Regions from separate parts of the Homo sapiens genome. Here region 1 is linked to region 2. Evidence: fine-mapped expression QTL. A gene starts in region 2. The other region holds a variant in brackets. All regions are shown on one strand. Distances are from middle to middle.

Region 1 (12,527 bases), 28 kb before region 2:
ACATGCAAATAGTCCTGTTGTACAGTGACTTGCCTGATCCTTTTCACTCTGAATGATTTTTTTTTTTTCAGTTTGCACACACGCCAGTTCAGTCTGTGGGTGTACAGTTCCTCCACGGTTCCAAACCAATGTGCAGAGTCTCCCGGCCACCGCTCCAGCCCCTCCTGGGGCGACTCCTTCATCCTCCAAGTCTCCAGGGTGGCCCCTATGCACCCAGCCTCTCCCCGATCCGTCAGCCCCTGGCCACCCAGACTGCTTCTCAGTCCCTGTGGTTTGGCCTTTTCCAGAATGGCCTAGGAATGGGAATCCTACGGTGGTAGCTTATTGGGTCTGGCTTCTGTCCCTCAGCAAAATGCATCTAGGATCCACCCACATTCGTGCGGGCATCACTGGCTCGTTCCCTTTTCTCACTGGGTCTTCTGTTTGAAGGGAGGACCAGCCTTGCTCTCCCCATCCCCGTGTTGAAGGCCGTCCCCGAAGGCTCCGTGTGTGAGTGACGAGGAATCAAGCAGTGAACCTGGCATGCAGGTTTCATGTGGATGTCAGTTTCCAAATCAGTGGGTTCAATATCTGTGACACTTTGGGGATGTGTGGTTCAAGTCCATTGAGCTTTGTGAGCCACTCCCAACTGGCTGCCAACGTGGCTGTGCCATGTCATGTTCCCAGCAGACCTGGATGAGAGTTTCCAGGACCCCTAATTCTCCCAGCATTTGGTGCTGTCATTATTGCCTGGGGGAGCTCATGGGCCCTCTATCCTGCCACCCTCCCGTGGGTCCTACCATGGGTCCCCATGGGTCAGGGAGAGCACCCTTCACCATTGTGCATGATTTTGTTTGCTGCCTTCCATCTCCTCAGGATCCTCCTGGGTTCTGGCCCCACATGTTCCAGTCTGGCCCAGGGCTTGGAACCAGGGAGGTGCTCGGTTCATGGTGCCGGCTGCTCCCTGGGTCGGGACAGTTCTTGGCACCTGTGTCATCCCTCCTGGGTGACCCTGGCTTCTACTCCAGGGAAGCCCCCATCCCTCTCATTCACCCCATCTCTGCTGGGACCCTGTGGCTCCCGTAGGCTTACTTGGTTCCGTATCGATCCCTGAAGAATATATGCTTCCTTAATGTCCCGCTTACGTCCAGGTCGATGTGGTGGATGTGTTCAGATGACCTCTTGCCCTTCTCCTTCATGATCTGTAGGGCAGGGCCAAGAGGAGGAAGCAGCCTCAGAACAGATGGAAGGCTCCCTGCCCCCAGTGGCAGTCAGCCCACAGTCAGCACTTTGGGAAGGAAGGACAGAAGGAAGGTTTCTTTGTGCAGAAAGCTGCTTTTTGGCTTGTTACTGAAGCCGGGGAGGGTCACCAGAGCCCAGTTTGTCTGTGGTGACTGTGTCACCATCTGTGCCCAGGGTGTTCATCTGACCTTTGCCCCCACCCCCTCCAGGGTGTGCTTGACGTTCCCTCCAGCTGGAGACCTGGGCCCCTGACACGGCCTGTCCTGTTTGTTATGCTCTGGCTGAGCGTACCTTGTATTTTCTGGGGTTTTTCGACTTGATTTCCTGAATGTTCAGGAGGACTGACCACACCAGGCCCCGGATGTTCATGGGAATGCCCTTGTACACTAGATCTATCAGCTGTGTGCAAAAAACAATCTGGTATCACAGGCCACCGGGTGACCCCAGTGAAGACCAGAGCCCAAGGATTCTGGAAATTGTCGGTTTTGGCCCCATGATTCCTCGGTAGAGGTGAGATCAAGCTGGGACAGGGCCTCTCTTCCCAGGACTGAGAGTGGATGGACACTCAGAGTCAAAACTCTGATCTGAACCTTTTCCTTCCTTCAGGTCACCAGGGCATCCCTAGCCTTGAGCTCCGGGTAGTCCCAGCCCTAGATTCAGATTCCCTCCCAGCAAGGTGACGCTTGCACGAATAGGCAGGAAATCTGGCGACCAGGCCTGCAGTCCTCTGGGCGAGGACAGTGTGCCACCCACCCTCTGAGAGGCTGACGGTGCCAGGCCACAGCCATGGGTGCCTGTCCCCTGTCTCTGCAGAGAGTGCTTCCAGGGGCCTCTCCCTCCACACATTACTTTGGTACTGTTCTTATATGTCTCCCATTCTCCCAGCATTTCCATCCACTTGCTCGTTCGTCTCATCTCCCACCACATTTGCTGTCAAATGAGGTATGTTGGAGTTAGTGGAGCTGCCAGGCTTTCCAGAGCCACCCGTGGATGCTGGGTCTTGGGCTCTGGACCCCTGGTGGGAGCCAGCTGGAAGGAGCCAGGGAAGGGCAGACCTCAATGGCTGAGAGCCTTTGAGCAAATGAGCACCAGTGGGCTGGCTTTGGGACCTGGGGACATGCCATCCTCAGGCCACAAACACACCAGTCTTAGGTCCCAGCCTCTAGGTGGGGTCCTGACACAAGCGGGCAGCCACTCCCAAGCCAGGACTGTGGTTCTCACTTTGGAATTTTATCAAACTGCCAAAGTCACAGCAACCTGGGGTCAGGTCCAGCAGGGACTGCTGCCCCTCCCAGTGACAGCGTGTTGCCCTCACCCACCACCGCCCAGGCCAGCTGCCTCCTCTGCCTCACCGACCACCTGCCCAGTCCCTACATCCCTGGACCAGCCCCTCCATGCATCAGGTTCTTACCTTCACCTCCCACGCAGTCAGAGGAGGCAGCTCCGTCTCACTGTAAGACAACCCAGGCAAAGCTGAGGACCTGCACAGGGCCTGGAGCCATCCCAGACTGGGAGCCAATCCCCAGAAAGGACTGGCTCTGTCCCTATCCAGCTCAGGGCTCAACCCAGGAGAAGGCACAGGGAAGGGAGGACAAGGGCCTTCCTGTGGGGCTGACTCCCAGAAGGGGCAGGACCTGGGAGAAGAAGGAGTGTAGGGACAGCCTGGCTGGGGTTACTGGGGCCCCTGGCGTGGGGGGCGGTCAGGCTGCCCAGTGGGGCTGCCCGTCCTGGACTCGAGGTGGTGCTTTCTGCTGGAGCTGAGAAAGGTTAGCCCTGAGGTGGGATGGGGGCCGCCCAGGGTGGGCGACCGGGCCCTGACAGGAGTCCCTCAGGGAGTGACCACATCACCCTGCCAGGGTCAAGGGAGCCTGCCCTGAGACCTGCCCGGTGTACTCTGGGTGCCCCAGGGGCCCATCCCCCATGACAGCCCCAAGGCCCTTGCAAGTTCTGACCTCCCAGCATCCACCTGCCTCTCCCTGCACCAGAGCCACACACCCTGCATTTCAGAAGTGGCACGGCTCATCAGCTCCCTCCCACCCTACCTCCCCAGGGATCCTCTGTCTCTCCATCCTATGATCCCTGAGGGATCATCGATCCGGTCTCTACTAAAAATACAAAACTTAGCAGGGCATAGTGGCACGCACCTGTAATCCCAGCTGCTCAGGAGGTTGAGGCAGGAGGATCACTTGGACTCGGGAGGAGGAGGTTGCAGTGAGCTGAGATTGTACCACTGCACTCCAGCCTGGGCAACAGACTGAGATTCCATCTAAAAAAAAAAAAAAAAAGTTTTCTGGGCACCACATTCCAAGTTTATGTAGTTTTCAAGGAAAATAGAATACTGGGCCCTTCGTAGTCCAGGCCTTAGCTTTGAGTCTATAAAAAAAAGTGCGTTAGCCAAGCACTGTGGCTCCCTGTTGTAAGAAGTCCCAGCTACTCTGGAGGCTGTGGTGGGAGGATTACTTGAGCCCAGGGGTTTGAGTCCAGCCTGGACAATATAATAAGATCATGTCTTTTTAAAAAAAGGTTTATTTATTTTTTTAGTTATTAAAAAGTAGAGATGGGGTCTTGCTATATTGCCCACGCTGGTCTGGAACTCTGCCTTCAAGTGATCTTCTTGCCTTGGCCTCTAAAATTGCTGGGATTACAGGTGCGAGCTATTGCACCCAGCCAAAAAGCTGGTGCAATAAAAATTCCATCTACACTCTACCTTTTTTTCCAATACTATAGCATAATAACTATATTTTCCTTTGTTTGGTGAGGCAATCTCCGTGTCCTCTGGTGTGTGGTCTCTGCTATTACTAAGAGAGTCAATAATCTTTACTTAGTTGAAGTACAGGTCTGTCTCTTATGGTCTTAGGCCAATTGGCCCAGGACAGTCCTCACCACAACCCTGAAGGAGGGGCTGTCTTGACCCCCTTTTTCTAGCTGGGGACACTGAGGCTGAGGAAGGTGAAGGGATTCGTTCCTGTGTTGTACTTGACATGTGAGCTCAGGACAGTGTTGGTTTCTCCAAAGCCCACCGCAATCCTCTGCCTGGTCCTCTTCTGCCCAGTGCCCCTGGCCTTAAGCCATGGTGGATTTCTGTTTAGGGCATGCGTCAGACCCTTCCTTGAGCTACAGACATCGGAGTACAGGGCCCCGGCTCCCTTGTTTCTGCTCCACATACAGAATGGGTCCAGTAGCACTGAACCCAAATCTGGCATTATCTGGTCTACAAATACCCTCCCTCTCACTGCCCTGCCACCCCAGGTCTTGGAGGTACCAGAATACCCTATCATGTACTGGGAATCCCATGTGACTGGACTCATGATGTAGACCACACAAACCCAACCAAAGACCCCTTTCCGGCCATGCTGGGTCCCTGCCCACAAGGGGCAGGTTTCTGACTTGAGGTTGAGGGTAATCACCCAGGGTCGGCACAGGACATGAGGAAGGAGATGGAGCCTGGTGCCCCCACCTCAGACCCCAAGCCTCAGCTCCCTCCCTATAAAATGGCCTCCCAGTGGATTAAAAAGTACACATATAAAGCACTTGGTGCCAAGCATAGCAGATGCTCAGGGCACCTCAGAAGTTAACTGGGTTACTTATGAAAGAGGGTTTGCTGGAGCAGCCTGCTTGCCGCTCACCAGCATCCCTCTCATATCTGTTCCCATGGAGGTAGGGACAATGCTGAGGACTGGCTGGGCGAGGACAGAGGCTCCCGGGGTGGTGTGGGCGTCTGGTGGCAGCAACAGGGCTGCTGCAGGAGCATGTAGTGTGTGTCAAGTGGTAGTGGCACAGCTGCTCAGAGGGAACTGCCTGCCCGGCACTTCACTCTCATGCCCTGGCACTTCACTTTCATCATGAACTCATTCGTGCCTGTGCGCTGGATCTGCCATCATCCACATATGAGTTGAGCTCCCTTCCTTTGCCAGCCCTGGGTGAGGCACCAGGGGTAGGAGGGTGGGACAGGGAAATGACCAGGGCATCTCCCAGGCTTTCTGGAGCTCTCAGACCTCCCGCTTCTGTTTGGGCTGGCTGCCTCGTGTTCCTGCTATGAATTGTCATGCATGAGTGTTTCTGCCCCTTCATTTATGGGGTCCCCAGGCACTCCACTCCCACCCCATGACATCCCATTTTTCTGAGTCTCACAGCTTCTGCATTTTAGTTCACTTCTTTACGTTTGTGAGGTACATTCTCTGGAAGTTTCCTGGCAGAGGTACATGGAAGGTAAAGTTTTCAGACCCTGAACATCTAATGATATCTTTTTTCTACTCTTACATTTGATCAATATTTTGACTAGATATGTACTTCCATATGGAGATAGTTTTCCCTCCAACATTTGAAGTTTACTTCTGTATTCTTCCGGTGTTGCTGTGACAATATCTAGTCCCTAGGGGGTGGACTTCTTTTCCCCCAGAAGTTTTAGGATCTTTTGTTTATCCTGTAGGCATTTTTCAAAATTGCCAGTGCTGTGCTTTCTATGGTATTTTTTTCACGCATTATGTGGATATGTGGTATCAGTTCCTTCAGCTGGTAAACATATGCTCTTCCATTCTGGGGATTTACAAAAATTCGTTATAATAATTTCCTCCCTATTGTTTTCTCTTCCTAGAATTTCTACTAATACGAAGTTAATCAACTAACTCTTTTCGTCTCCTTCCTTCCTTCCTTTTCTTTTACTCCAATTCTCCTTCCCCTACCTCCAGCTAACTTCCTGGGAGATTTTTTCAACTTTATCCTCCAATCCTACTGAATTTTTATTAAACAGCTTAAATTATTTAAAACATTTTTCTTAAGAGATGGGGTCTCACTTGTTGCCCAGGCTGGTCTCAAGAGATCCTCCTACCTCAGCCTTCAGAAGCTCTGGGATTATAAGTGTGAGCCACCGCACCTGGCTAAACAGTTTAAATTCTAAAAGCTCTTTCTTTTTCTTAGACTAGTTCTTTCTTTCCATCAAATTGATTTTGTTTCTGTTTTTGTCTTTTTGAGACAGTCTTGCTCTGTCGCCCAGGCCGGAGTGCAGTGGCACAAACTTGGCTCACTGCAACCTCTACCTCCTGGGTTCAAGTGATTCTTGTGCCTCAGCCTCCCGAGTAGCTGGGATTACAGGACTGCCACCATGCCTGGCTAATTTTTGTATTTTTGGTAGAGATGGGGTTTCACCATGTTGGCCAAGCTGGTCTCGAACTCTTAGCCTCAAGTGATCCTTCTGCCTCGGCCTCCCAAAGTGCTGGGATTACAGGTATGAGCCACCACATCTGGCCTCAAAAAGGCTAACAATCTTTGACTATCTCTTCCTGTCTGGGGATGAGGCATTAAAAAGCTGCTCAGAAGTTCCAGCAGAAGGGGCTACTCCTAAGAGACACAGGACCAGAAAATACAGACTCAAAAGTAGGCCTTGGTGCGCTGGGGCTGCCCCTCATCCTCCACTGGGCCTTTGCATCTGTTCTAGGCTCACAGAGAGAGCAGAATGGGAAACGGGGACCATTCCAGGTGGTGTATGGAGGGTTGCATTTGCTCTGTGCACTGCCCAGTGTGATGTTCCTCAGCCTTACTGTAGGTCATCCAGGTGGTAGAATTATTCTGGTTTATACAGATGCTGAATTATTCTATTTGGCGGGAGCCTTGCCACCCTGGGCTTCAGGGAGACCCTCTCCCAGGGCCCCCTGGGTTTTTCCCATTCTAGCAGGCTTGCTGAATGCGTTTGGATTCACATTCTTCCCCAACAACTGCTGTCACAGCTCTGGATTGGCTACCGCAATGAGAAGGTAAAGCAACACTTTGTGTCTCACGACCTGAGGGCCCAGCAGGTGTGGCCGGCAGCCAAATCCCGACATCTGCACTTCCTCCAGGCTCCTGCCCCTCCCCACGGTGTGCCCAGCAGTCTCCTTTCCTCAGTGGATGCTGTTCATGTCCTTGCCATGGCTGCCAAGCCAGCCAAGAGGTAACATGTTGGTCCTCGGGCCACAGAAGCCCTCTTCTGTCCCTCCAGGAGGATTACTTTGTTAAGAGCCTGGAGTGGCTGTTTGTTAACTACCATAGTAACCATAGCAGTCTGGCTCTGAACAAGGGAACCCCATTAGCATCAGCTCCTTGATGGATGAGGTGGAGAGCAGGGGACAGGGAAGAGGATGTTGCTGAGAAGTTTGAAGAAGTTAGTCATTAGGAGTCTTGGTGACTGTCCCGTGCCCTCTCTGCCCTTCTGTCTCCCCTAATGTGTTCACTAATACCCACCTTTTCTGTCTCTTGGGGTCACTCTAATGTCCATGGTGACACTTGTTATTATCTATTGCCAGGGGACCCACAATGTGAGGACCATGAGGGAGGGGAGTTAGATCTTCCTGCCCCATGGTTGACAGTCCACCTCAACCATGGGGCAGAGCAGCCCCTCAAGGGGCTGAGCAGCACCATCTGTCTCAGACATCATCCAGGGTGTACCAGCAGGCACCCTAGAGAAGGAAGGGGGCCAGCTACAAGAGTCAAAAGCAACATGATTCAGTATGCAGCACAATCATTTTAAGAATCCTGATTCTGGGCTGGGCGAGGTGGCTCACGCCTGTAATCCCAGCACTTTGGGAGGCTGAGGCAGGTGGATCACTTGATGTCAGGAGTTGCAGACCAGCTTGGCCAACATGGCGAAACCCCATGTCTATCTAAAAACACAAAAATTAGCTGGGCATGGTGGTGGGCACCTGTAATCCCAGCTACTTGGGAGGCTGAGGTAGGAGAATCACTTGAATCCGTGGGATGGAGGTTGCAGTGAGCCAAGATCATGCCACTGCACTCCAGCCTGGGTGACAGAGTGAGACTCCATCTCAAAAAAGGAAAGAAAGAAAGGAAGGAAGGAAGGAAGGAAGGAAGGAAGGAAGGAAGGAAGGAAGGAAGGAAGAAAGAAAGAAAGAAAGAGAAAGAAAGAAAGAGAAAGAAAAGAAAAGAAAGAAAGAAAGAAAGAAAGAAAGAAAGAAAGAAAGAAAGAAAGAAAAGAAAAGAATCCTGTTCTGGGACAGCTCAACAGCCCTGAGGCCACCACCTGCTCTTTGCCATAGTGTGAACTCATCCCTGACACAGAGCCCAGTCCCCTGGGGCCCTGCTCACGGGGTCTAGCCAGAATGCTCTCCACAGCTCGAAATGGAACGGCCTAGCAGTTGGAGATGCCAGACGTGAGTTATTGAACACATCTGCCGAGACCAGAGACCAGGACACGACATTTGTATCTACCAAATGAGTGCTGGCAGCTAGCTCTGCTCCCCTGGAACATCCTCTCAAAACCCTTTTGCCTTGACTATTATCTCATCTCTCTCCTGGCCTGCACTGATCCTTGGCCGACTCTAAGAAGTCACCCGTGGGG[G/C]CCTGGGGCAAGACAGGTCATGGTTCTGGGCACCAGCACTGCCATCTGGCTGCTTCTTCTGGCCTCTCTTTGCTGGACTAGTGCCTGGCCCAATATCATGCCATCATGATCACGCTCAACTCGAGGGATATCATTTACTCCTTCAAGGGCAAGATTCTAGACCCCTCACTGCAGAGCCCTTCACTGGGGACACCCGGTCTTCTTTGCCTGCTTGGACATTGAGGGTGGAGGGAGGAAGGGGTTGTGGGCATCCATAGAAGCTGTGGGGGGCATCCAGAAATAAGGGAGAGAGGCATCTTCACTGCTGGCGGTGTGCGGGACCAATTCCAGGGATTGTCTGACTGCGCTCCCCCCCACCACCCCATAGGTAGCAGGGTCTGCTGGGCTTGGATGCCAGTGGGAAGAATGCGTTCTTCGAGAGTGAGTGGACCCTCCTCTGGGCTCACTGGAGGGGACGGGTCTGGAGCAGGCAGAGTGAGCCGCTGCTTGCGGGATCCGGGATGGAGCTCAGGAATGGAGCTCCACACTCTCCCAGCTGCCTGGCCCGGGACAAGCATTGGCCCTTTCTGGGCCTCCTCAGGAATCTCCAACCTCCGAGGCGATTCTAGTTTAAGCCTGATGAGGCAGACGTGCATCCGGGCGGATGATTAGCCGGTGTGGGCGCGGCCTGGAGCGGGCCCAGGCTGGGGAGTGGCGGCTGCACGCGGTGACGACTGTGTGTTCGCTGAGTCAGGGCCCGGAGCGCTTCAGCACCGCGGCTTGGACAGCGCCCCGGGGCAAGCGGGTGGCGCTCTCCCTACAGGGACAAATGACCCCAGGGCCGGCATTTCTGACCTAGAGAACGGGCCTGGATTGCTCTGGCGGGTTCTGAGCCTGGGGTTGGGGGCGGGTGGGGAGCGGACGAAGTGGGGGCGGCCTTTGGAGACGATGGCAATTTACCGCCTTAGGCGGGCAAGCGCACGAGTCCCGGGAACCCTAAACAGGTTGGGGTGCCCCTTGGGGTCTAGATGAGGCCCGGGCTTGCGATAAAGCGTGGCGGCGTCTAGACATAACGTCCCATCTCCTGAACCCGTCAAGGCCGGTGGCACCCAACCTGGCGGGCTCATCTAGGACCAGTCCACACCCAAGGCCCCAAGACCCAAAACCTCCTGGGCTGGGTCTGCCTGGCTAGGGGCCCCTCATCCTGGGCTCTACTCTTTTGGCGCAGAGGCCATGTGGCAGGCCCCTGGTCTGCGCCCTGCTCAGCTTCCCCTCCCCACCCCGAAAAGTGGAGAGCCCCACGGCTTCCCCAGAAAAGCAGTCTGCTCCCCGCGCCCCAGCGCAGCTCGTTTACTATGGGTCAGGAGAGGAATCCCGCCTTTTTTCCGCAGCGAGGATGGCCTGGGCTCCTGCGCGAAGCGAGGCTCCGTCCTGGAGAGGCTCAGTGACCCGGCAGTGGCGCCGATCCGGGTTAGCCAGGGCCGCGCTGGGACCCGCGGAGTCGCGTGATGCAAACGGGAAGGCGGGAGCAACCCAGCTCCTTCCCGGTGCTGCCTGGCTGCTGCATAAGCCGCCCTTTCTTCCCTGACAAACACTGTCCAGATGGGCAACAGGTCCGTGTCTCCTTTGGCAGCCACTGTCTCCAGAAAGGCATTGGGCAGTTAAGGTGGTCAGAGCCCTCAGGTAAATCCTCCCTCTCCAGGAGTCAGCCCTTCCAGCTGCGGGAGGGCAGGTAGTGGGATGCGGGACCTTCGCAGGGCTGGGAGATGTCATCAACTTTTACCCTCACATGGGGAGAGTGGGAGTGCTGGGCCTGGCGGTCCTCTTACGTCCTTACTGTGCAGCTTGGGATTCTAGGTTGGAAGGAGTCACCCTACTGCTCAGTCAGCTCTATTTGCCACCTGCCCAAGAAGACCCATGGGAATGGAGGCTACAAGACACTCTAGGGCACAGTGACAAGGAGGGATTGATTCCAAGACTCCTTGGAAGAACCAGATCCCTGAGCTTCTCAACAAAACAAGGGGCCACCTCTGGTCTTTGCCCTCCAAAGGGGAAGGCAGGAAAATTGTTAGAGGCAGATTGGCAGGAGGGGCCTGTGGAGTGTGCAGGGGGCCAGAGCCAGTTCCTAGAAGTTGAGCAAGGGGATATGGGCACCAATGCACACAACTGTGCACTGGGGGCCTCTGTCTCCTATCCCCTGGTCCCAAGGATGTCATGATGGTTTGACCTGTCTTCTAGGACATTCTCTAACTAGGGCAGCAGCCATGCCTGTTGACCTGGTGAAACAACTCCAGCCCTGGTACCCTGTGACATGACCCAGGAGGTGGTGACCATATGTGGTAAGTGAGTTGGGAAGCAGAGTGGAGGATGAAGAGGACCACCACAGGCGCCAAAACAGCAGTCTCAGTGCAGGGGACCGGGCTCTGGGAAGCAAGGGGCTGTGGTCCTCAGTGATGCTTCTCGGCTCCCAGCTAGAGCTGCAGGAAGTTGTGGACAAATTCAGCCAAGGACTCTGAAACTCAGGTGAAATAAATAAAGAGAGAGAGAGAGAAAGAGAGAGAGAGAGAGAGAGAGGAAGGGAGGAAGACAGAGAGAGGCAGAGGCAGAGACAGAAAGAAAGAATTTCAAAAGATGCAGGCGAATCAGCCCTCCTTCTGCCCCCTGAGCCTGTGTCCTGGACTGAGTCTGAGATGGGAGGTGAGACGCTGCTGGGCCTCCCACCAATCTTAGTTTCTGTAGGTATTTCTCCAAAGTATGGGTTGGTTGAGGGTTGGTTTAAAACATGTTTCTGGCTGGGCATGGTGGCTCAGGCCTGTAATCCCAGCATTCTGGGAGGCTGAGGCAGGCAGATCACTTGAGCCCAGGAGTTGAAGACCAGCTTGGGCAACAAGGTGAAATCCCGTCTCTACAAAAAATATAAAAAATTAGCCAGGCGTGGTGGTGCATGCCTGCAGTCCCAGCTACTCAGAAGGCTGAGGTGGGAGGATGGCTTGAGCCCAGAGGGTGGAGGCTGCAGTGAGCCTAGTCTGGGTGACAGAGTGAGACTCTGTTTCAAAAAAACAACAAAACAAAAAAACCGCAATGTAGTTTCTGACTTTCATGCTGACTGTAGAACTTAACTTTTATGAAGAAACATAATATATTTCAGAACTTTATAGCAACTCTGGTGGCACTGCAGAGTCAGGTCATTCTTCCTGGACTTCTGTCCACTTCCATTATGGGATGTCTCCACTGAGCGTTGCCTACATCATCTCTGAATTTGAGGCCTAAAGTGTGACCAGATTTAATCAAATCCTGCTTGGAAAATATAGGCCCATTCAATGGTGATCCATTCTGGCTAAAGACTTTTTTTTTTTTTTTTTTTTTTTTTTTGAGACGGAGTCTCGCTCTGTCGCCCAGGCTGGAGTGCAGTGGCACAATCATGGCTCACTGCACGTGATCCTCCTCTGCCTCCCAGTGTCAAATTATCCTCCCACCTCAGCCTCCCAAGTAGTTGGGACTGCAGGTACACACCACCACACTCAGCTAATTTTTATATATTTTTTGTAAAGACGGGGTTTTGCCATGTTGCCCAGGCTGGTCTCTAACTCCTGGGCCCAAGTGATCCTCCTGCTTTGGCCTCCCAAACTTCTAGGATTACAGTCATGAGCCACTGCACCTAGACTAGAATCTCTTTGACTGTTTAAATGAATTACAAGATAATTGGCATTTTTAGTACATAGGACTAACATTCCATCATTTATGTACTCTTTAAAGTTTTTCAAATTGTTGTATAATTTCCCCCACAAAGTTTTCGGATAGCAATCTTACAGATTCCCCTGAGAATGTTGGAAGACAATGGTGGGACTACCCAGGCAAAGCCAGAATAAAATAAGGTTTACAATTCTGGCTGAGAAAGGAAGTAGGATTAGGCATGTAGTTAAAAGGGAACCAAATTTTGGTATTTAATAAATAAAAATTTGCCGAATGATGTGATCTTTGATTATGTCTATCTTAA
Region 2 (12,370 bases):
TCTTGTCTGAACTGGCCACTGCCCGGAGGAGCTGCGCTGTGCGCCTTAGTGTGCCACCACCTAACCGCCATCGCGGCTGAGCCCACCTCCTTTCCCGGACATTAGAGGACGAGGGGTGCGAAGGTCGGGGAAAGCTGGGGGCATCCAGATATCCAGAGTAGAGGAGGGGCCTCTTCCCTGCGTGGATGTGCATGGGAAGGATTCCAGGAATTTAATTTTCTTTTCTTTTGAGATGGAGTCTCGCTCTGTCACCAAGCTGGAGTGCAGTGGCGCGATCTGGGCTCACTGCAACCTCCGCTTCCCGGGTTCAAGGGATTCCCCTGCCTCAGCCTCCCTAGTAGCTGGGACTGCAGGCGCGTGCCACCACACCTGGCTAATTTTTTGTATTTTAGTAGAGACGGGGGTTTCACCATGTTGGCCAGGATGGTCTCGATCTCCTGACCTCGTGATCTGCCCGCCTTGGCCTCCCAAAGTGCTGGGATTACAGGCGTGAGCCACCGCGCCTGGCCGAATTTTCTTTTTTCTTTTTTTTTTCTGGAGTCATCATCTCTCCACTCGCAGATAGGGAGTCAGCGTGGTTTGTATGCAGGTGGGAGGGACTGAGCCCCTGAAAATGGTTAGGATTGTCTCTGGCCTCAGCCTTGGTACACACATCACAGGACAAATCAAGCAGACAGTGGTGAGTCCGCCACAGTGGGCAAATTTCTACCCGTGCCAGACAGTGTACAGGATCTTTTGTTTTTTTTTCTCTCTCTCTCTTCCTTTTGAGACAAGGTCCTGCTCTGTCACCCAGGCCGGAGTGCAGTGGCGTGATCTCCACTCACTGCAACCTCCACCTCCTGGGCTCAAGCGATTTTCCCACCTCAGCCTCCCCAGTAGCTGGGATTACAGGCTCAAGCCACTGCCCCCCGCTAATTTTTGTATCTTTTTGGGTAGAGATGGGTTTTTGCCATGTTGCCCAGGCTGGTCTTGAACTCCTGGGCTCAAGCCATGTGCCCGCCTTGGCCTCCCAAAGTGCTAGGATTACTGGCGTGAGCCACCTTACCTGGTGGGGCACAGGATTTTAAATTAAATTTTTTTTTTTTTAATTTTTAGAGACAGAGTCTTGCTCTGTCGCCCAGGCTGGAGTGCAGTGGCATGATCTTGGCTCACTACAATCTCTGCCTCTAGAGTTCCGGCGATTCTTGTGCCTCAGCCTCTCTAGTAGTTGGGATTACAGGCGTGCACCACCACACCCAGTTAATTTTTTCTATTTTTAGTACAGACAGGGTTTTGCTATGTTAGCCAGGCTGGTCTTGAACTCCTGGCCTCAAGTGATCTGCCTGCTTTGGCCTCCCAAAGTGCTGGGATCACAGGCGTGAGCCACTGCGCCTGGCCTAAATTTTTCGTCTTTAAGACGGGGTCTCTCTCTCTCTGTCATCCAGGCTGGAATGCAGTGGCACAATCATAGCTCACTGCAGCCTTGAACTCCTGGGCTCAAGTGAGCCTCCAGCCTCAACTTTCTAAGTAGCTGGGACTACAGGCTGATGCGACCATGCCCGACTTGGCACAGGATTTAAATATGGCCCTGGACAAGTCACTGGCCTTCTCTGGCCTTCCCAGGTAAGCTTGGACTTTCTGGGATGCTTCAAGTTCAAATCATCAGTGGTACAACTGTTGAACAATATGAGGAACGCTGCGGGTTACTGGGCCTGTGTGGACCCGTTTTGGATTCTAAGCTGGGTCCTGGGCAGAAGTTGGAGGCTGGGGCAGCTGCAAGCAGGACAGGCAGGTGGCCAGAGGGCCCAGCAGCTTCAGCACTGAGGACTGGACTGGGTCGCCACGCCCAAAGGAAGGATAATTACTCACCTCCCACTCAAGAAGCAGGCGGCAGAACTGTTTTGGAGAGCATGGCTTGGGGCCTGGGACCTATGTTCATGCGGTCCAGACGGAGATCCATGAGAGTTAAGACTCTTTCTAGATATCAGGTAGCACTTCTGATTACAAAACTTTTGCACATGGTCTCCTCTCTGCTTTACAACAGCTCAGGAAAGTAGGCCCAAACATCCACTTTAATAGATGAGGGAGCTCAGAGGGGGTAACCAACCCCTCCAGGTCACACAGCCAGGGAGGGGGTTGAGCCAAGGTTCAAACCACTGCCTCGGTTGTTGCAGATACATCCCTGCAGACACCTTTATTGAAGAGGGACCCTGAAGGCTGAACGGCCAACACAGAAGAGGAGGCACTTGGGAGTAAGGGTGATTTATGGCCCTGGGAGGGCCCAGTGCAGGTAGGATGGGAGCTAAGGTAAGGCTGGGCCATGCCTAGCTGCAAGCAAATTTCCTTAAAAAACAAACAACAAAAAACATTACTTTTTCTAAACCTAAAGTTTGTGGTGGCATTCAAGTCCCATCATAGCCCATCTATCCAGACTCATCTGCCTGGGATCCCCGTCTTGGGACTAGTGGTCACTGGCCTGCTTCCTGGTCAATTAGCTTCCGGGACTAGGGGGAGGTGTGAGGAGCCTAGAGTGCAAAATTTAAGAAGCACTCAGTCTCAGGGGCGTGCAGGTGCAGGGTAGCGACGGCAGGACTCTAAGAGTGAGTCTCTTTCCTCCCCGTTTCCCCGTCCTACTTTCACTCTAAGCATTTAGTTCCCAGGGGACAGAGACGACTTCTTCATTAGAAGACCCCGGGGGGTCCCCAGCCCGGAAGGGCTCACAGTTGGAGCTCAAACATTTGCCACTGTTCAGGCTCATCTTTCTTTCCCCAGTGAAAAATGGTCTAGGTTGGGAAGGGCAGGTTCCTGTCTACTGCGTGATCCAACCGATTCTGGTTCGCCCAATGTCTGGACTTGTCCTTTGCCAAGAATAAGCAGATGAGATGGGCGGATGAACCCCAATGTCCCTGCAAGATTCAGGAAGTCCCAGCCAGAAAGTAAAGGACGTTTAGTTCCATGTATTGTTTTCTTTTTTACATGCGGGGCAACACACCTGGACAGTGTCGATGGCTTGCTCCAAGCCACACGGCCGCATAGGGACAGGGACTGGGCTACATAACAAGTTCTTCGACGCTGTGATCTAATCAAGGAAAACCTGGGACGCAGCTAATAGATGCGCATCGAGTGTATCGACGCTCTAAGTACGAGGGCTGGAACAGTGAGCAGGATCAGTCCATTGCTTTTGCCTACCTGCTGAGCGCTGATTGGTCCCCGTTTAGGAAACGGAAAAAGGGGCGTGCACGCGGGCGCGGCTGCGTGAGAGGCGCGCGGCGGCGCAGTGAACAGTCTCCTTCCACAAAACCATGGCGTCGCTCAAATGTAGCACCGTCGTCTGCGTGATCTGCTTGGAGAAGCCCAAATACCGCTGTCCAGCCTGCCGCGTGCCCTAGTGAGCGGGGAGGTCGCGGGGTCCAGGGGCGCGGGTGTCCGGCCATGGCGGGAGGGCGGGAGGCCGGGAGGCCGGGCGGGAGCGGGCGGGCTGCTGGAGGGGCCGGGGACCCTCGGGGCTGACGCGGCCTGTGGCCTCTGTTGTTACAGCTGCTCGGTAGTCTGCTTCCGGAAGCACAAAGGTGAGCCCCGTCCCCGCCAGCCCTCGTACCACTGCGCACGGGGCAGCCCCCACGTCCAGCCTCCGTCTTGGGGGCGTGGACCCTTGGGCTGCGCTTCCTTTCCCGCCTCGGGTCTCCGCGGGTTCTGCAGGAACCTTGCTTCCTCTGACTTGGTCCCTGGTGTCTCTGTGTGTCGGACAGTTCCCTCTGTTGTCCCTGCCTGTAATCGCTCTCAGGGTTTTGGTCAGTAGCCTTTCTTCTACCCCGCTTCTCCTTCTGCGTGTTACTCTTTTTTGCTTAGAAATAGTTTCCGATTGCTTTTCCCACCGAGGTCTACCCTAGCAGTTTCTTCCTCAGTATTCTGATGTAGCCCCTCACCATTTGGCTGAAACTGCGCTAACTTTAACAGTATTTTCACTCGTGTAAATAATGTCTTGTTAGAAACAAAGAGGTAAGTCCATGTACAATACAAGGAGACGTCCTTGATTTGTTAAGAGAAAAAAAGAACCAAGTAAGTTCTGTGTATGATGTGAACACACTTTTGTACAGTTAAAAAGAAGTGACCTGGCCGGGCGCGGTGGCTCACGCCTGTGGTCCCGGCACTTTGAGAGGCCAAGGCGGGTGGATCACCTGAGCCCAGGAGTTCGAGACCAGCCTGGCCAACATGGTGAAACTCCGTCTCTACTAAAAATACAAAAATTAGGCGGGCGAGGTGCGCGCCTGTAATCCCAGCTACTCAGGAGGCTGAGGCAGGAGAATCGCTTGAACCCGGGAGGCGGAGGTTGTAGTGAGCCGAAATCGCACCACTGCACTCCAGCCTGGGCTACAGAGCCAGACTCAGTCTGGAAAAAAAAAGAAAAAAAAAAGTTTGATGTAGGTGGGGCGCGGTGGGTCACGCCTGTAATCCCAGCACTTTGGGAGGCCGAGGCGGGCGGATCATTTGAGCTCAGGAGTTTGAGACCAGCCTGGGCAACATAGCGAAACCCCGTCTCTATAAACAAACAAAGCCAGGCGTGGTGGCCTGTGCCAGTGGTCCCAGCTACTCAGGAAGCAGAGGTGGGAAGATCGCTTGAGCCTGGGAGGAGGAGGTTGCAGTGAGCCAGGATCGTACCACTGCACTCCAGCCTGGGAGACAGCAAGACTGTCTCAAAAAAAAAAAAAAAAAAAGCTTGATGTAGATTCTTTCAGCTTATTTCCACTCTTGTACCAATATATAGAACTTTTTTTTTTAGCTTTTAGAATCTCAGCAATGAGACTGTACCCAACATCCTCATTTGAGTTTATATATTGGGCACTTTTTAAAACCTAGTGCATACAGGCTGGGCGCAGTGGCTCATGCCTGTAATCCCAGCACTTTGGGATGCCAAGGTGGGTGGATCACCTGAGGTCAGGAGTTCGAGACCAGCCTGGCCAACATTATGAAACCACATCTCTACTAAAAATACAAAAATAAGCTGGGTGTGGAGGTGCGCGCCTGTAATCCCAGCTACTTAGGAGGCTGAGGCAGGATAATTGCTTGAACCATGGAGACGCAGGTTGCAGTGAGCCAAGACTGCACCACTGCACTCCAGCCTGGGCAACAGAGTGAGACTCCATCTAAAAAAAAATTAAAAAAATTAAAAATAAAGACTAGTGCATACAAGTTCTAGCTCACTGACTTAAAGGACTGTATGTTATTTCATTATATAGTTGGTACGACCATTATTTATATAAAGCCTCCTATTGGTTGATTTTTCTTTTTAATATTTGTTTTTAATTGACACATAATTGCATACAATTTGAGTTACAGTGTGATACTTCGATACCTGTATACAATGTTTAAGGATCAAATTAGGGTAATTAGCATATTCGCCCCAAATAATCATTTCTTCATGTTGGGAACACTCGCAATCCTCTCTTGTAGCTATTTGAAAGTATAAATTGCTGCCAACATGGTCACACTAAGGTACTGTGTAACACTAGAACTTATTCCTCCCATCTAGCTGTAATTTTGTATCCATTAAGCAACTTCTCCCTAGCCCCCTACACTCTACTCTTCCTAGCCTCCAGTTACCACTATTCTGCTCTCTACTTCTGTGAAATCAACTTGCTTAGCATCCACATGTTAACAAGAACATCTTATGGTGCCTGGCTTGTTTCACTTAACATTATGTTCTTTGGGCTCATCCATGTTCCTGCAAGTGACAGGATTTCATGGTTTTTTATGGCTAATATCCAGTGTATATATGTACCGCATTTCTTTATCCATCTGTTGGTGGATCCTTAGGTTCATTCCTTATCTTGGCTGTTGTGACTAGCAGTAAACGCAGGAGTGCAGGTATCTCTTCGGCAGACTGATTTCATTTCCTTTGGATATATATACAGTAGTGGGATTGCTGGATCATATGGTAGTTCTATTCGTAGTTTTTTTTTAGGAACCTCTATGCTGTTTTCCATAATGACTATACTAATTTACATTCCCAATAACAGTGCAGTGTATAAGAGTTCCCTTTTCTCCACATCCTTGCCAACATGTTTTTTTCTTTTTGATAATAGCCATTCTTACTGTGGTGAGATGATACCTCATTGTGGTCTTGACTTGCATGTCCCTAATAATTAGTGATGTTGAACATTTTTTCATGTACTTGTTGGCCATTTATATGTCTTCTTTTGAGAAGTGTCTGTTTGGCTCATTTGCCCATTTTTTTTTTTTTTCTTTTTGAGACAGAGTCTTGCTCTTGTCGCCCGGGCTGGAGTACAGTGGCGCAGTCTCTGCTTACTGCAACCTCCGCTTCCAGGGTTCAGGTGATTCTCCTGCCTCAGCCTCCAAAGTAGCTGGGATTACAGGTGCCTGCTGGCTGATTTTTGTATTTTTAGTAGAGACAAGGTTTCACCATGTTGGCCAGGCTGGTCTTGAGCTCTTGACCTCAGGTGATCCACCTGCCTCGGCCTCCCAAAGGGCTGGGATTACAGGGGTGAGCCACCATGCCCGGCCCATTTGTCCACTTAATTTTTTTTTTTTTTTTTTTTTGGCTGTTGAGCTCCTTGTGTATTCTAGATATTAATCCTTTGTCAAGTGAATATTTTGCAAATATTTTCTCCCATCCTGTGGGTTGTCTCTTCATTCTATTGTTTCCTTTGTTGTACAGAAGCTTTTTTGTGTAATAGAATTCCATTTGCCTATTTTTGCTTTTCTTGCCTGTGTTTTTGAGATTTTATTCATAAAATCTTTGCCTAGACCAATGTCCTGAAGCATTTCCCCTGTGTTTTCTTGTAGTAGTTTCAGGTCTTACATTTAGGTCTTTAATCCATTTTGATATTTATATATGGTGACAGATAAGGATCTAGTTTCATTCTTCTGCATATGGTTATTCTTACAGTTATCCTATTTTTCCAGTACCATTTATTGAAGAGTGCTTTTTTCCCCAGTATATGCTCTTGGTGCCTTTGTGAAAAGTCAGTTGGCTGTAAATGTGTGAATTTATATCTGGGTTCTCTATTCTGTTCCATTGATCTATGTGTCTATTTTTATGCTAGTACCATGCTGTTTAGATATTATAGCTTTGTAGTATATTTCGAGGCCAAGTAGTGGTGATGCCTCCAGCTTTGTTCTGTTTGCTCAGGATTGCTTTGGCTATTGGGGGTCTTTTGTGGTTCCATATTAATTTTAGAATTTTTTTTTGACATTTCTGTGAACAGGATCATTGGTATTTTGATAGGGATTGCATTGACTCTAGATTACTTTGGGTAGTATGGTCATTTTAATATTTATTTTTCTTATTGGTGGATATTTACATTAATTTTGCCTTTGTTGCTGCTATAGGCAGTGTTAAAGTGGTATTTAATAAATAATTTTTATCAGAAATTTCTAATAGCCACATCTGTTGTACACTTTTCATTTGTCTTTTTTATTTTTTTGCAACAAAGTCTTGCTCTGTCACCCAGGCTGGAGTGCAGTGGTGCTCACTATAGCCTTGACTTCCTGGGCTCAGGCAGTCCTCCTACCTCAGCCTCCCAAGTAGTTGGGACTGCAGGCGTGTGCCACCATGCCTGGCTTATTTATTTTTAATTTTAATTTTTGTGGAGATGAAGTCTCACTGTATTGCCTGGGCTGGTCTTGAATTCCTGGGCTCAAGTGATCCTTCCACCTTGGCCTCCCAAAGCGTTGGGATTACAGACGTGAGCTACCCATGCTCAGCCTGTCATCTTTCTTGATTCCCATGAATATCTGCTGTGTTTGGCTTTTTCTTTCTTGATATTCTTTGGAGGCTGGGAAGATACCGCTCTGTGGTATTCTCTCCTCCCTTTCTCCCTTCGAAGTCCTAACCAGGCCTGACCCTGTTACAGCTTCTGAGGTCAGATGAGATAGGGTGCATTCAGGGTGGCTTAGCTGTAGACTCTCGTTTTCTTTTTTTTCCTTTTTTCGAGACAGGGTCTTGCTCTTTTGCCCAGGATGGAGTGCAGTGGTGTGATCACAGCTCATTGCACCCTTGGCCTCCTGGGCCCAAGTGATCCTCCCACCTTAGCCTCCTGAGTAACGGAGACAAACTTTATCTATTTTTCGTAGAGACAGGGTCTCACTGTATTGTCTAGGCTGGTCTTGGACTCCTGGGCTTAAGCAGTCCTCCTGCCTCAACCTCCCAAATTGCTGGGATTACAGGCAGGAGCCACTGTGCCCAGCTTCTCCTTCCTTTTGCTAGATCTCTCTCTTGAAATGTGGTCCTTGACTTTTATTCCTAGGTAGGTGATCTCTCTTTCACTTTAAACTTTTTTTTTTCTTGCTGACATCCAACTGTTTAGCTCCAGCCTCTTTTTGAGCACCTTAGACACAAATGTATTTTGGGGTCAGGTACAACCCAGAAAATTCACCTCTCCTTCAGTCCCTCCTGCTGTGTTCCTTACACATATAGCATAGCCGTAAAGTTAGACCCGGATTCCAAATCTGCCTCTGCTACTTACTAGCTGTGGACCCCAATGGACAAGTTTATTACAAGAAAATTTAATCCTTTCATCTGTAAGTGGAATTAACAGTCTCCATGTCATGGGGGCTTCGTAAAGGTTCATTGAGCCACTATGTATCTCACTGTGTACCTGGCACAGTGCTCGGCACTTAGTCACTGGCAGCTGTTGTAACTGCCACCTACATGACTAGAACCTTTCCGTAGCATATTGTCAAATCTACATTTTAAGTCTCTACAATCTGGTCCTGCCTTTATGTCCTCAGAACCCTTTCCTGTGACTTCATGCTCTGTTGATACTGTCACCCAGGCTGGAGTGCAGTGGCACAATCACAGCTCACTGCAGCCTTGACACACTGGGCTTAAGGGATCCTCCTGCCTCAGCCTCCCAAGTAGCTGAGACCACATGTGTGTACCACCATGCCTGGATGATTTTTTTTATTTTCTGTAGAGACATAGTCTTGCTAGGTTGCCCAGGCTGGTCTCAAACTCCTGGGCTCAAGTGATCCTCCCACCTTGGCCTCCGAATGTTAGGATTACAGGCGTGAGCCAGCACAGCTGGCCTTCTGTTGACTCTGTAAGTTCTTTGGTGGTTTTGCCCCTAGTTTTATCCCATCTGGTATCTGGTTTACAGCAGCTATTTCAAACACCTCAGTTAATTGTGGTGAGAATTTTGTAAGATTCGGCAGGGTAGGGAGGATGGGGACAGGTTCTTGGGGTGCATGAATGAGTCCTGCTTTCTCAGCCTGCTGGCGGTTTTCCTTAATCTCTCTCTTGCTTTGATCTCTCACTTCTTCCACATTCCTGGGCACCCACCCACATCCCTTACCCCAGACACTTGCTTCCTACCTAGATGCTACCTTGGTAGGGAGGTGCAGCCTTGTCGCTGAAATGGAGGTAATGTGGGCCTGGGATTTGTGTCTTTTTCAGAACAGTGCAACCCTGAAACTCGTCCTGTTGAGAAAAAAATAAGATCAGCTCTTCCTACCAAAACCGTAAAGCCTGTGGAAAACAAAGGTGGGTTGGTTGACTTCAAACAAATCTACAAGGGACTTCACATAGAATAAGTCGAAGGAAAAGGGGAGAGTGGGGCTGGTCAGGGAATCCAGAACAATAGCTTCATTGGGAAGGAACAGCTTCCTTAGCCTTGAGCATCAGGAGTGGGGCCATGTCATCATGGGTGATATTGAGGCAACAGCCTGAAAGCAGTATTCAGGAGAAGAAAAATGGGCAGAAGACAGAGATGAGAAAGGCCATGGCTGTGGTTTGGGGGTTTGCGGTGGGCCCTGCTGGCAGGAGCCTTCTCTAGCCCATAGCTGCTGGTCTCCCTCCATGAATCTGGCTGGGACTGTCAGTTCACCTGAACTCAGCCCAGGCAGGAGGCTTTCTTTGTCCTAGATCATCTCGCTGCTGCTGGGGGTTCAGAGCTCACAGCAGTAGTGGGCTGTCAACCCATCCGTCCAGCCATCTAAACGTTCTTTAATACCTCCTGGGTGTCAAGCACCATGCCAGGCTCTGAAAGCAGCCCCTCTGGTGCCACCAAAGAGGTATTGAACATTCACTCCAAAGGCATGGCCCATTTTTGCCCTTTGAGAAATTTCCAGGTTGGGTTCAGGCAATGCCAGCAGTTTCTGCCCATGCTGAAAGCACAGGAGATTCTACTTGGCTGGTTTTTACAGAGCATCCAGTTAATTGGCCCATCACAGGGTTGGAGCCATGTTGAGGTGGGGATGGGTATTAAGTTATTAGACAACCGGGGTCTAAGCCTAAAGACCACAGGACCACATATACAGTAAGGATGTGAACACTAGAGTGCATTTGTTAAAATCACCAATTCTTTCACTTAGCCTCCCTCTTCTAAAAAAGGAGTGTTAGTATAGTCACAGACTCCGGAGAAGAGGATTTTTGTCTGTACCTGCTTGAATACCCCTATCACTATCACATGTGCGTGCACACATTTTTATCCTGTTCAAGTAGTGGTTAAAATCTGGTGCCCAGGCCTCCTTTTTAGCCATGAGCCATTGACTGTTTTGTATTCCTTAGATGATGATGACTCTATAGCTGATTTTCTCAATAGTGATGAGGAAGAAGACAGAGTTTCTTTGCAGAATTTAAAGAATTTAGGTAAGTCTGTGCTATGCTTGTCAATCGTTGAGATACATTTACTGTGTTGTAAGGATTGTGATTTTTTAAAAAGTTTTTAATTTCTTGAATAAGTATGGCATGTAGGGCTCTTACTATCTAGCCACATAATCTGTAAACATACAGGGTTTCACACCTCCCAGCCTGCCCACACCATTCCTTCTGCCTGGAATCCTGCTGGTCTTGTGGGTTGGCAAAATTCTGCTCCTCCTTCAAGCCTTGGTTCAAGTTTTCTTCACTCAGCTAAGCTTTTCTTGACCTTTTGTGTCTCTTTCAGAATTAGGCACTTTTTTGGTTTCCCATAGCAACTTGGACTTAATAGTAATAAATCACTGTTACATTTCATGGTAATTTGTCTCTCACATACCGATTTGTACAGCAGGGACCTGTATTCCCAGATCCCCAGTGCTCAGCTCACAGTCCAGCCCTTAACACAAACTGGTTATCACATGATTTGATTTAGGGGGAAACAGGTGTTGCCATTTTTGTAGCACTGCTTATTCAGTCCTTACAACATTCTGTTACATGTGCATGGGGTCTGTTAATTTCATTCTTCCCATTTCACAGAATCATGTTAAAAGGTTATGTTTTGCACTTAGTCTCATGGTAATGATTAGTTAGACTGAGTTTGGAGATGAGCTAGTAATAGGTGTGAAAAATTTTACAGACTGTGAAGTACCATGCAGGTATTATTGTTGGTTCCCTGCTACTGGTGCTGCTGCATGCCAAATGGCATGCTTAGACATCATTCAGATTATTTCGTATAGCCGTCTTCACCACTGGCAACTTTTATGGCTAGAAAGAAAGAAAACATGCCAGCAGCTTAATGCTACTATTTGCTTTGTGATTGTGCTGATAAAGCATTTTTTTCTTAGCTGAAGTGGCACGAAGTTACAATATTTACAAAGATACCAAGAACTGGTATCTGTTACTGCATTTAATGCGGAAATAGTTTGATATGCTGGTCTTACCTTTCATTTTATAGAGGTGGGGTCTCGCCATGTTGCACAGGCTGGTCTTGAACTCCTGAGCTCAAGCAATCTGCCCACCTTGACCTCCCCAGTTGCTGGTATTACAGGCATGAGCCACCACACCTTGCTGATAGTTTTATTACACTTGAAATAGCTCTTCACTTTTCAGCCATCTCCATGTGTTTCCACTTGAACTCAGACTGGCTTTTTTTCTTGTTAATTTTTAGGGGAATCTGCAACATTAAGAAGCTTATTGCTCAATCCACACCTCAGGCAGTTGATGGTCAACCTCGATCAGGGAGAAGACAAAGCAAAGCTCATGAGAGCTTACATGCAAGAGCCTTTGTTTGTGGAGTTTGCAGACTGCTGTTTAGGAATTGTGGAGCCATCCCAGAATGAGGAGTCTTAAGATGGATTATTGTGCTGCTTGCTCAAGCGTGTGCTTGACTCCTGGAACCTGCCTGCTCCCTCTCCCAGACCAGCTAGTTTGGGGCTGGGGAGCTCAGGCAAAAGAGGTTTCCAGGATGCAGATTAGGTCATGCAGGCCTTTACCGGCATTGATGTGGCTCATGTTTCAGGCAGACTTGGGGTCCTTAAGGTGGCAAGTCCTTTATGGAGAGAAAACTTGACATTCAGATGATTGTTTTTAAATGTTTTACTTTTGGTACAGTTGATAGACATCATAAACGATATCAAGCTTACACTTCATATGGAGTTAAACTTGGTCAGTGTTAATAAAATCAAAACGTGATTCTACTGTACATTGCATTATTCATAATTTAATTGTTTGAAA

Evidence for each region. PIP is the estimated chance that this variant, and not a neighbour inherited with it, causes the effect.
Region 1: its variant is fine-mapped to the expression of ZNHIT3 in whole blood (TOPMed, PIP above 0.99).

Annotation. Positions count from the first base shown.
Region 1 is chr17:36,454,858-36,467,384 of GRCh38, forward strand. It overlaps the pseudogene TBC1D3JP. Among named protein-coding and RNA genes, the nearest start is that of TBC1D3F, 22 kb to the left of the region's middle. The variant G/C (reference allele first, on the strand shown) is at 8,552.
Region 2 is chr17:36,483,419-36,495,788 of GRCh38, forward strand. ZNHIT3 (zinc finger HIT-type containing 3) reads left to right here and starts at 3,263. Exons shown (of 5, transcript NM_004773.4): 1 at 3,263-3,367; 2 at 3,517-3,548; 3 at 9,395-9,481; 4 at 10,508-10,588; 5 at 11,805-12,370. The coding sequence starts at 3,282. The coding sequence ends at 11,986. LOC105371749 (a long non-coding RNA gene) reads right to left here and starts at 3,261. Exons shown (of 3, transcript XR_934710.4): 1 at 3,169-3,261. MYO19 (myosin XIX) reads right to left here. Exons shown (of 26, transcript NM_001163735.2): 26 at 12,218-12,370. It also overlaps the pseudogene RNA5SP439. RefSeq lists an enhancer at 2,984-3,917.